2 separate regions of the Homo sapiens genome follow, and region 2 is linked to region 1. The links come from fine-mapping of genetic effects on gene expression. Tissue or cell type: whole blood. Region 1 holds a variant in brackets; the other region holds the start of a gene. All regions are shown on one strand. Distances are between the middles of the regions.

Region 1 (5,000 bases):
TTTTTTTTTTTTTTTTGAGACAGTCTCGCTCTGTCACCCAGGCTGAAGCGCAATGGCGCAATCTTGGCTCACTGCAACCTCTGCTTCCCAGGTTCAAGCAATTCTCCTGTCTCAGCCGCCTGAGTAGCTAGGACTGCAGGCACCCACCACCACGTCCGGCTAATTTTTGTATTTTCAGTAGAGATGGGGTTTCACCATATTGGTCAGGCTGGTCTCAAACTCCTGACCTCAGGTGATTCACCCACCTCAGCCTCCCAAAGTGCTGGGATTACAGGCGTGAGCCACCGCGCCTGGCTAATATTCTATTCTTATTAAAGTGTATACATGTACACACACGTCTCCTTGTTTTACACAATGGGAACAATCTCTTCACATATTTCTGTACCTTGCTTTATTCTCTTAACAGTATATTTACAAGATGATAGAGAGGGAAAAAAGGAAAAAAAAAAACCAGTGTATTTATCAGCACAAATAAGAGTGGCTGCTTCTATCATGACCTCGAAGTAGGCACTGGATGCAACTTTTTTGATGTCTGCTTTTCTGATAGATGAAAAATGGTATTTTATTAATGTTTGAATTTGCATGTCTTACGGAGTCTTGCTGTGTTGCCCAGTCTGGAGTGCAGTGGCGTGATCTTGGCTCACCAGAACCTCCGCCTCCCTCATTCAAGCGATTCTTCTGCCTCAGCCTCCTGAAAAGCTGTGATTACAGGCATGCGCCACCACGCCCCGCTAATTTTTGTATTTTTAGAAGAGACGGGGTTTCACCATGTTGACCAGGCTGGTCTCAAACTCCCGGCCTCAGGTGATCCACCTGCCTCGGCCTCCCAAAGTGCTGGAATTACAGGTGGGAGCCATAGGCCCGGCCTGAATTTGCATGTCTTCAATTGTGAATGAAGTTAAACATTTTTCACATGCTTATTAGTCATTTGTGGATTTCTCTTCTTGTGTCCTGTTTATGTCCTTTGCCCAGATTTCTAATGGGTTGTTAGGTAACTTACTGTGCGAGACCGTTCTCCATGGGTCTCACATTTCTTTTTTTTTTTGAGATGGAGTCTCGCTCTGTCACCCAGGCTGGAGTGCAGTAGCACAATCTCGGCTCCCTGCAAACTTCACCTCCTGGGTTCACACCAATTCTCCTGCCTCTGCCTCCCGAGTAGCTGGGACTACAGGCACCCGCCACCACGCCTGTCTAATTTTTTGTATTTTTAGTAGAGATGGGGTTTCACCATGTTAGCCAAGATGTTCTCAATCTTCTGACCTCATGATCTGCCCGCCTCGGCCTCCCAAAGTGCTGGGATTACAAGTTTGAGCCACCGTGCCCAGCTGGGTCTCACGTTTCTGTACATCTATCAGAGGCACCGACTGCATTTTTGTTCCAGATTATATCTTCGAGGATTTCACACCTGTAATCCCAGCACTTTGGGAGGCCGAGAGTTTGGGACCAGCCTGGCCAACAACACAGTGAAACCCATCTCTACTAAACATACAAAAATTGCGAGGCATGGTGGTATGCGCCTGTAATCCCAGCTACTCAGGAGGCTGAGGCAGGAGAATTGTTTGTATAGCGGACAGCACTGTTCCTCAGGAGCACAGGACAGCTTTGCTTACTGTCCAGTATCATGAATACACAATGCCTCCCACTGCAGCAAAGCTCAGGAAGGCTTGTTTACTTGCCCATTACAAAACATTCAGATCACTAAGATGAGGGTCCTCAGCTGTGATGTGAATCTGCTGTGTGGGCAGCATCTACCTGGGCCTCTCAGCATCATGCCCATGGGGCTTGGGAGGCAAGGGGGAACTGACACAAATATGTTACTCATGTTGTTGCTACATTACGATAATAAAATTCTTTGTGTCTGACTCAATAGTCTTGTATCTTCTGCAAGCATCCATGAAACTGTGCAGGCTAACCTGCAAAGGGATAAAATTTCAGACACTTTACAGTTATTCACATGTTGATTTTCAAGTTCTCATGATATATTAAATAGGGAAAAAAAAATCTCAGACCGTTTAAAGTTCTTGATACCTACTGATTTTTTTTTTTTTTTTTTTTTTTTTTTTTTTGAGACAGAGTCTCACTGTTGCCCAGGTGTGACCTTGGCTCACTGCAACCTTTGTCTCCCAGGTTCATCCAATTCTCCCGCCTCAGCCTCCTGAGTAGCTGGGACTACAGGTGTGTGGCACCATGCCCGGCTACTTTTTTTTGTATTTTTTGGTAGAGATGGGGTTTCACCATGTTGGCCCGGCTAGTCTCGAACTCCTGACCTTGAGAGAGCCACCCACCTTGGCCTCCCAAAGTGCTGGGATTACAGGAATGAGCCACCACGCCCGGCCAATCCCTACTGATTTTTAAAGATCCCATTATAAATTAAGAAAATTGGTCTTTACATATCAATATCTCCCCCTTCTTCATGTTAACTTTTTATTTTGACTCTCATTATAATTTTTGCAGGGGACGAGGTGAGGCAACAGATTTTAATTTTTAGGTATTTCATCAAGTTTTCTTTGAAAGGTTTTGGGTTTTGCTTAGAAAGGTATATAACCTAAGATGAAACATTGTTTCCATGTTTTCTTCTACACTTACTCAGTTTCATTTTTTCAACATTTAATTTTTTGATTCATCCTAAATTTATTTTAGAGTAATGAATGGTGTAAAGATTTATGTTCATTTTCTCCCTCAGATGGCCAGTGAATTATCCTACTGCCATTTATTAATAATTCTTTTACCCAACTAATTTAAAATACTATTTCATAATTACTAAATTTTTCATATGCTTAAGTCTATTTCTGGAGTCTGTCAAATTCATTGTCAGTAACAAACTGTTTTAGTTACCAAGGTTTGATAATATATTTTAATATGTTGACATTCTTTTCATATAAAGTCTTTTTTTTTTTTGACACAGAGTCTTGCTCTGTCACCCAGGCTGGAGTGCAGTGGCGCAATCTCAGCTCACTGAAAGCTCTGCCTCCAGGGTTCACACTATTCTCCTGCCTCAGCCTCCCGAGTAGCTGGGACTACAGGCACCTGCCACCATGCCTGGCTAATTTTTTGTATTTTTAGTAGAGACGTGGTTTCACCGTGTTAACCAGGATGGTCTTGATCTCCTGACCTC[A/G]TGATCTGCCCGCCTTGGCCTCCCAAAGTGCCAGGATTACAGGCGTGATCATATAAAGTTTTATAGCTTGTCTAGTTTCTTCCCAATAATTCAATGGTATTTTTATTGAAACCCACGAGTATTCACCAGTATCTGGATCTTTTCTGATTCCTGCACGTACGAAAGACTGAAGTTCCTTGCCTCCCTGCATTCAGGTGGGGTTATGTGATTAGTCTGGCCAATAGCCAAGTGTCATGTGATGTTTCCAGGCCAAAACATTTAGTTGCTGGATTTTGACTCCCCTCCTTCTTTTCCTGCCACAGCCTCTGAGCGTGGTACTTCTTTCAGATGATGTAACTCCAAGATGGCACAGCCTCAGAGAGTCTAGACCTCTGAATGGGTCTAGACCTCTATGCGGACAGAGACTCCTATCAGCCCACAATGGAACTGCGGCATGACTGAGCAAGAAACTCAGTGTCAGACAGGGGGATTTCAGGGTTAATTTGTAACTGCAGTAAACTTGGGCTGTTCTAATATAACCATTACACTTATAGACTAACTGAAGACAGAATTGCTGTATTTATAATTCTAAGACTTTCTATTCAATAATAGGGGATGTCTTATAATTAGATAAGTTTTCTTTTTATATCCATCAAGGCTATCAAGTTTTCTTCTTTTTTTTTGTTAAATTTATTTCTAATTGTTATATATTTATCTTGCAGTTATAACTGGGTTCTTCTACTGCAATTTATTTTTTTCTTACAATAGAAGTAACTTTTTAAAAAGTTACATAAAATACATGTCCATTGTAAACATTTTTTTGGAACAATACATAAAGGTATAAAGAAAGAAAGTAAAAATCACTTGAAACCTCACCACTGTACATGAATAATTATTAATAGCTTGGCAATCATCATTTCATACATCTCGTATATATATACACACACATATGCATGTCATTACATTTTCTACTTGTAATTTGTATATAGGAGAGCTGCTGCTGCTTATATATTAGCATTGTGACAGGTACTTTATTGAATTCTTATTGTTTCTACGGTTTTTCTACTGGATTCTCTTGGGTTCTCTAGGCATATAATTGCATCATATAAAAACAAAGACAACTACTACCCCCTTTCACATTTTTATACTCTTTTAAATAATCTTGTTAATTTGGACTGGTTAAGATTTACAGAGTGATATTAAATAACAGTAGTGATACTTGTCTTATTCTTGACTTTACTGGAAATGGAAAACTTGTAATTGCTACACTGATTCTGTCTTAGGCAGTTTTCCTTTACAGGAGAAGAGCATGTAGAGAACATTCCTCAAGTTGATTTTATATACCATCGAGGGTAGCACAGTCTTGGTTAATTCAGAAGTTACTTTATGTAAACATGTCTAACTTATTATTTCATCTTTATCACATGCATAATAAAAGGGTATACCAACCTCTCCTGCTGACAACTTCTCTCTCACATTTTTCCAATAAATATCTTTATTTTCAGTGTTAGTGAAAAAAAGTAGCCACTCTGCAAAGTCTTCTTTTCTCATGAAACTCAAACCTTTAGAAAACTGAAGGAATTCCATTTCTTGAATCTCTGTTTGTAAATTTTCCATAAATCTGAATGTTAAAATACAAAATTAGTAAGGTAACTAGTGGCATTCAACCTTAAATATTGTAAATGGGTCTGCAAAGTACCTTCACTATTACCTACTGAGTGGCTGCCTCCTGATGGTAAGCAGGATGAAGCATTAGTGCTGTGCAAGGATTGTGGGGAGAGGAAGGATGCAGAGAAACTGATTAAGTCCAACACTGGCTTCCATCAGTAACTCTCTATACTCAACTTGTTTGTGTAAGTTATACCTGGCAACCTACATTCTGATAAACCTAAAGACTTAAAAAAAT
Region 2 (5,000 bases), 100 kb after region 1:
GCCGGGCGCTGTGGCTCACGCCAGTAATCCCAGCACTCTGGGAGGCCAAGGCAGGCGGATCACGAGGTCAGGAGATCGAGACCATCCTGGCCAACATGGTGAAACCCCGGCTCTACTAACAATACAAAAAAAAATTAGCTGGACGTGGTGGCGTATGCCTGTAATCCTAGCTACTTGGGAGGCTGAGGTAGGAGAATTACTTGAACCGGGGAGTTAAGAGGTTGTAGTGAGCCGGGATCACGCCACTGCACTCCAGCCTGGGTGACAGAGACTCCATCTCAACAACAAAAAAAAAGTGCATTTTACTCTTGGCAAAATGAGACACTGAAGAAGGGTTTCTGAAGAAGGGTACACTGTGTGGTTAAAGTGATACTCCGGAGAAGATTAACCTAAGGGTCTTAAAAACAGGATGAATCGGCCGGGCGCAGTGGCTCACGCCTGTAATTCCAGCACTTAGGGAGGCCAAGGCGGGCGGATCACGAGGTCAGGAGATCGAGACCATCCTGGCTAATACGGTGAAACCCCGTCTCTACTAAAAACACAAAAAATTAGCCGGGCGCGATGGCGGGCGCCTGTAGTCCCAGCTACTCGGGAGGCTGAGGCAGGAGAATGGCGTGAACCCGGGAGGCGGAGCTTGCAGTAAGCCGAGATAGCGCCACTGCAGTCCGGCCTGGGCGACAGAGCGAGACTCCTCTCAAAAAAAACAAAAACAAAAACAAAAAACAAACAAAAAAACCAGGATGAATCTAGGGGAGAGAAACTAATGATGAATACACTGAACTCCTTGGCACAAGATTCACAAAAATGCTATAAAAACACTAGATAATAGATCTTTCCATTATATATGTTTACAATATAATTATAATGTATGTTAATACAAATAAGGAATATCAGTTGCCAATACTTAATTTTAACTCACAAGGCCTTCTTTCCTCTCTTTTTTGTTGTATCTGAATGTTCCTTGAGTTTTTCGCTAGAAAGGCATAATGTAAATCTAAAAAAGAAAATAATAAACTACTACTTTCAATTTTCAAAAAAGCTCATATGTAAAAACTTACTAAGTCTACAAAAATTTTAAAGCACTACTCATTCAAATTTTCAAATGCGTTACAACATCATTTATCCTGAAATAGGGAACTTGAATCTTTTTTTTTTTTTTTTGAGACGGAGTTTCGCTCTTGTAGCTCAGGCTGGAGTGCAATGGCTCGATCTTGGCTCACTGCAACCTCCGCCTCCCGGATTCAAGCGGTTCTCCTACTTCAGCCTCCCGCCACCACACCCAGCTAATTGTTTATATTTTTTAGTAGAGACCGGGGGGGCGGGGCTGGGGTGGGGAGCGGCTTCACCATGTTGGCCAGGCTGGTCTCGAACTCCTGACCTCAGGAGATCCACCCGCCTCGGCCTCCCAAAGCCCTGGGATTAAAGGCGTGTGCCACCGCGCCCGGCGGACTCTTGTCTTTAATAGATGGAGGTTTTAGGAGCAATTTTTGCTTAGAACTTATGGTCCACTAAGATATTAAGGTTTATAATCATGCAATAATGTTCCTTAAAGTTGATAATAAAATCTGGAAATCAACTGGTTAATTTTTGTGGCTGACACATTCGTGACTTAAAAAAGCAATCGACAGAACTTCATCATGCTATACAAAGAAAAGATCGTAAAACTTAGTTGCAAAGCTTAACAAAGGTATATCCCACAGGGGTAACTGGACGCAAACCACCTGCGGATGTGAATGCCACTTCACTGACCAGAGAGGTAGCAAGAGGCGAGGCGCAGTGAGATTCTGAATTAGGAGCCTCGAATTAAGACACGCCCACACTCATCACCACTAAATTAGTGCGGCCAGTTTTGTGGGCCGTGGTGTTCAGCGTCCGCGGGGTTCTCCCAAGGGAGGCAGAATCTCCGGTCACCAGCCTCGAAGGCCCTCGGGGACTCAGGCCGGGGGCCGGTCCAGGAAGGAGCGAGTCCCACCAGTCGCAGGGCGCTCCGATCCGCAGCGGCACCTCCACCCACGGCTCCGGGAGAGCCGCCCAGAGCCAAACCACTCCCCGCCTAAGGGCGTCAGGGGAGGGAGGAGCTTGACTGGGGCTAGCAGAAGGAGTTAGTCCTGTACCTGTGCGGAGACTGTAAAACTGCCATCCCGCGCCGCAACACTGACGCGGCTGTGGTGCCAGGCCGCTCCTGCTCCTGCCAGGGCCGCGCCGGCCACTGCCGCTGCCAAGGGGCCGGGACTCCGCACAGCCTGTCGGCTGACAGCGAGCCCCCGTCGCAGTTTTCCGCCCCAGGCCGCCACCCGCGCGCAGCTACCCGCAGCCGCCGCCATCTTTGCGGAAGCGCAGCTAGGCGGCGCTTCTCTCCCGGCGCCGCCGCCTACCGCTTGGGAACTCTCGCGACATCCGACAGGCTTCCGCCCCGCCTACCGGGCCTGCGCCGTGGGTGCGGTTGCTGAGGCGACGCTCGCAGCCGCAAGAGGTGGCCTTCGGTTCCGGGGCTGCCTTCTAAGGCTGTGGGGATGGGATGACAGGAAGAGTATCAAGACAGTATAATATGACTTCCTAGTCCAAAACAAGATAGTGCCCTCGGTTGTGTGGGCAGGTTTCTCCTTTTCATTTTTTCACCTTGTAAAACTGTGAAACGTTTTTTGAAATAGTCTCTTCTGCATCTGTGTTGTTCATGTCTTCCTATGCTTATAGTCTTGACTGTTCTTTCATTTCTGCTAAAACAACTCTCAGACAAGGCATTCTGTTTATTTCAGTCCCTCACTATTTGCTTATAATGAATTTAAATTCAGTTTCAACAAAAGGTTTGATAGTAGCTCTTATCCTACCTAGAACTAAAAGTCAGAGACAGCAGCACACCAGCCCCATGTCTCTATCATCAGGGACCCAGAGGTTTTCCCCAGTGCAGATTTAGAACGATACCTCCAGTCCTGGCTGTTGCATTGGTGATAAGTGATGTAGCTGAGGCAGACTACTTGGTTTTATTTAACAGCCTCCAATCCTCCATTCTTTGGTCTTCACTTTTCCTGAGTAACTCTTTTTAATAAACTCTTTGTTCAGCCTCTGAAATGTCCCCAGCTATTAGAAGCTTTAGTTGGGCATGCAGTAACGGAGCCAACATCAAAGGGGCCAAGACTCCTAATCACATAATCACTGCTGTCTTGAAGTTTTGCACAAAACAAAACTTCAAGAAACAAAAACAAAAACCTGTCACACGAAATCTAATTTGATCATTCAGTGGAAGTTCCGTGGATCCCTTTGTTATTATCTGCCCTTAATCCTTGCTCCCTTTCTCTTAGCCCGCTTGTCTAAATTAATCTGCAGTCAGAGGTTCCTCACTTTTCCGTCAGCTTCTGGACTTACTTTTCAGTGTGCCTTCCCAGGTAGGAAGTAGAGAGATGAGCCTCACTTCACCGACTTGTGAGCCAGACCTCAAGGTTTGAATCTTAGCTCTACCAGGATGATCACTGTGGTTTGGGGCAAATTATTTAATCTCTCTGAGTCTCCATTTTCTCATTTGTAAATAACTCACGATTTGGTAGATGATCACTGCTATTTGGGGTAAGGTATTTAATCTCTTTGAGTCTCAATTTTTTCATCTGTGAACAACCCTCTTACAGTTTGGGGTGGGGAAGCTAAATGAGATATTTTATATAAAGTGACTAGCCAAATGCCTGGCACATGGTAGGCTCATGACAGATGTGCGTTTACTGTGGTCAAGGTTTGGTTTACTTCTGCCCTGTGAACACAAATGAGCTTGACTGAATGTCCATGATTCCAGATCACTAGCCCATCTTAACCTGAGATTTTCCTGCTTTTTTGTATCTAGCCTGACTTTGTCAACCTCTGGACTGTTTTTCACCTCTGCTAACTCTGGTAGCTTTGGCACATGTCCTGCTTTTCTGGACTATTGACATCTAGCTTGTTTCCTGGTGATAATAGGACTTCCAGGATATTTTGGACACCCTGGATGTCTTACCTTGTAGTTTATTCTTGATTTCCAGAAACCACAGTCTTTACGTGTATACTTCTAACTGCCTCACACAGTTCCTCTAGGTATTTAATGAAACCTGGCATCTATTACTCAGTATTGCCTTAAGCCCAAGATAAGTTTAGATTCCCATTAAAACATGTAGCATATTTAAGAACATTGTCTTTCTCCCACAATTTGACATCCTTGTGGGTGAGATGTCTTCCTTTTCCCTGTTTCTCTAGCACCTAGCACAATGCCCAGCACGTAATAGACATTCAATGAGTGAGTAAATAAGTGAATAAATAAATGGCACAAATGAAACTCAGGGGTTCATATTTCTATGCTTTGGCCATCCAAAATACAGAAGTATATTATTCCTTTGGGGTACTTTATTTTCAAAACAAAAGCTTCTTTTTATTTTGCCAAAAATCTTTGAACCCACTTGGAAAACAGTGTAATTAGTTATTTTTTAAATTTTCATTATGTGCCCAGGCATCTAGAACTCTCACTTATAATTTAATGTATTCAAACTTTTCTTATGCAGAGGAAACAAATTCTTATAATAGAACCAATCTCTAGTCGAATAACCATTCTAAGTATGAAATCTTCCTTGGCAGCTGCTGACATTTGTCTAAGCACATTGACTATATTGGTCTTTTTGGGCTCCAGCTTTGTTCATTTCTTCATCATCAGCTGTAAAGTCCTGGGCTGGGATGTATTTTCAACCATGCAGTTTATAAACCAACCCCCAAATAAGAAGCTGCTTCTAAAGCTGTACATTGTATGCTGTTTTAAATAACTGGACGAAAACAGGATGGAAATACTTATTGTTTCAAAGTATTCTTAATTCACTTACTCCTGCTCTTTTTTTCTGAAGAAGAACGAAAGTGATATGTCAGAAAAACTGCTCTTAAGGAGCTTTATTTTCACTGGAGAGGCTAGGCTTGAATTTCAAAACAATTGTCTCTGACTTTTATACTGTACAGAGAAGCAAGGGTGAGGTGGGCTGGCACAGGCAGAAAAGCAT

What was found. PIP is the estimated chance that this variant, and not a neighbour inherited with it, causes the effect.
Region 2: it holds the start of MICU2, and the variant in region 1 is fine-mapped to the expression of MICU2 in whole blood (TOPMed, PIP above 0.99).

The regions. Positions count from the first base shown.
Region 1 is chr13:21,498,383-21,503,382 of GRCh38, forward strand. It overlaps MICU2 (mitochondrial calcium uptake 2), which reads right to left. Exons shown (of 12, transcript NM_152726.3): 9 at 4,544-4,715. Among named protein-coding and RNA genes, the nearest start is that of ZDHHC20, 42 kb to the left of the region's middle. The variant A/G (reference allele first, on the strand shown) is at 3,116.
Region 2 is chr13:21,601,825-21,606,824 of GRCh38, forward strand. MICU2 (mitochondrial calcium uptake 2) reads right to left here and starts at 2,346. Exons shown (of 12, transcript NM_152726.3): 1 at 2,115-2,346. The coding sequence starts at 2,324. RefSeq lists enhancers at 1,440-2,059, 2,060-2,678, 2,460-2,529 and a silencer at 2,080-2,289.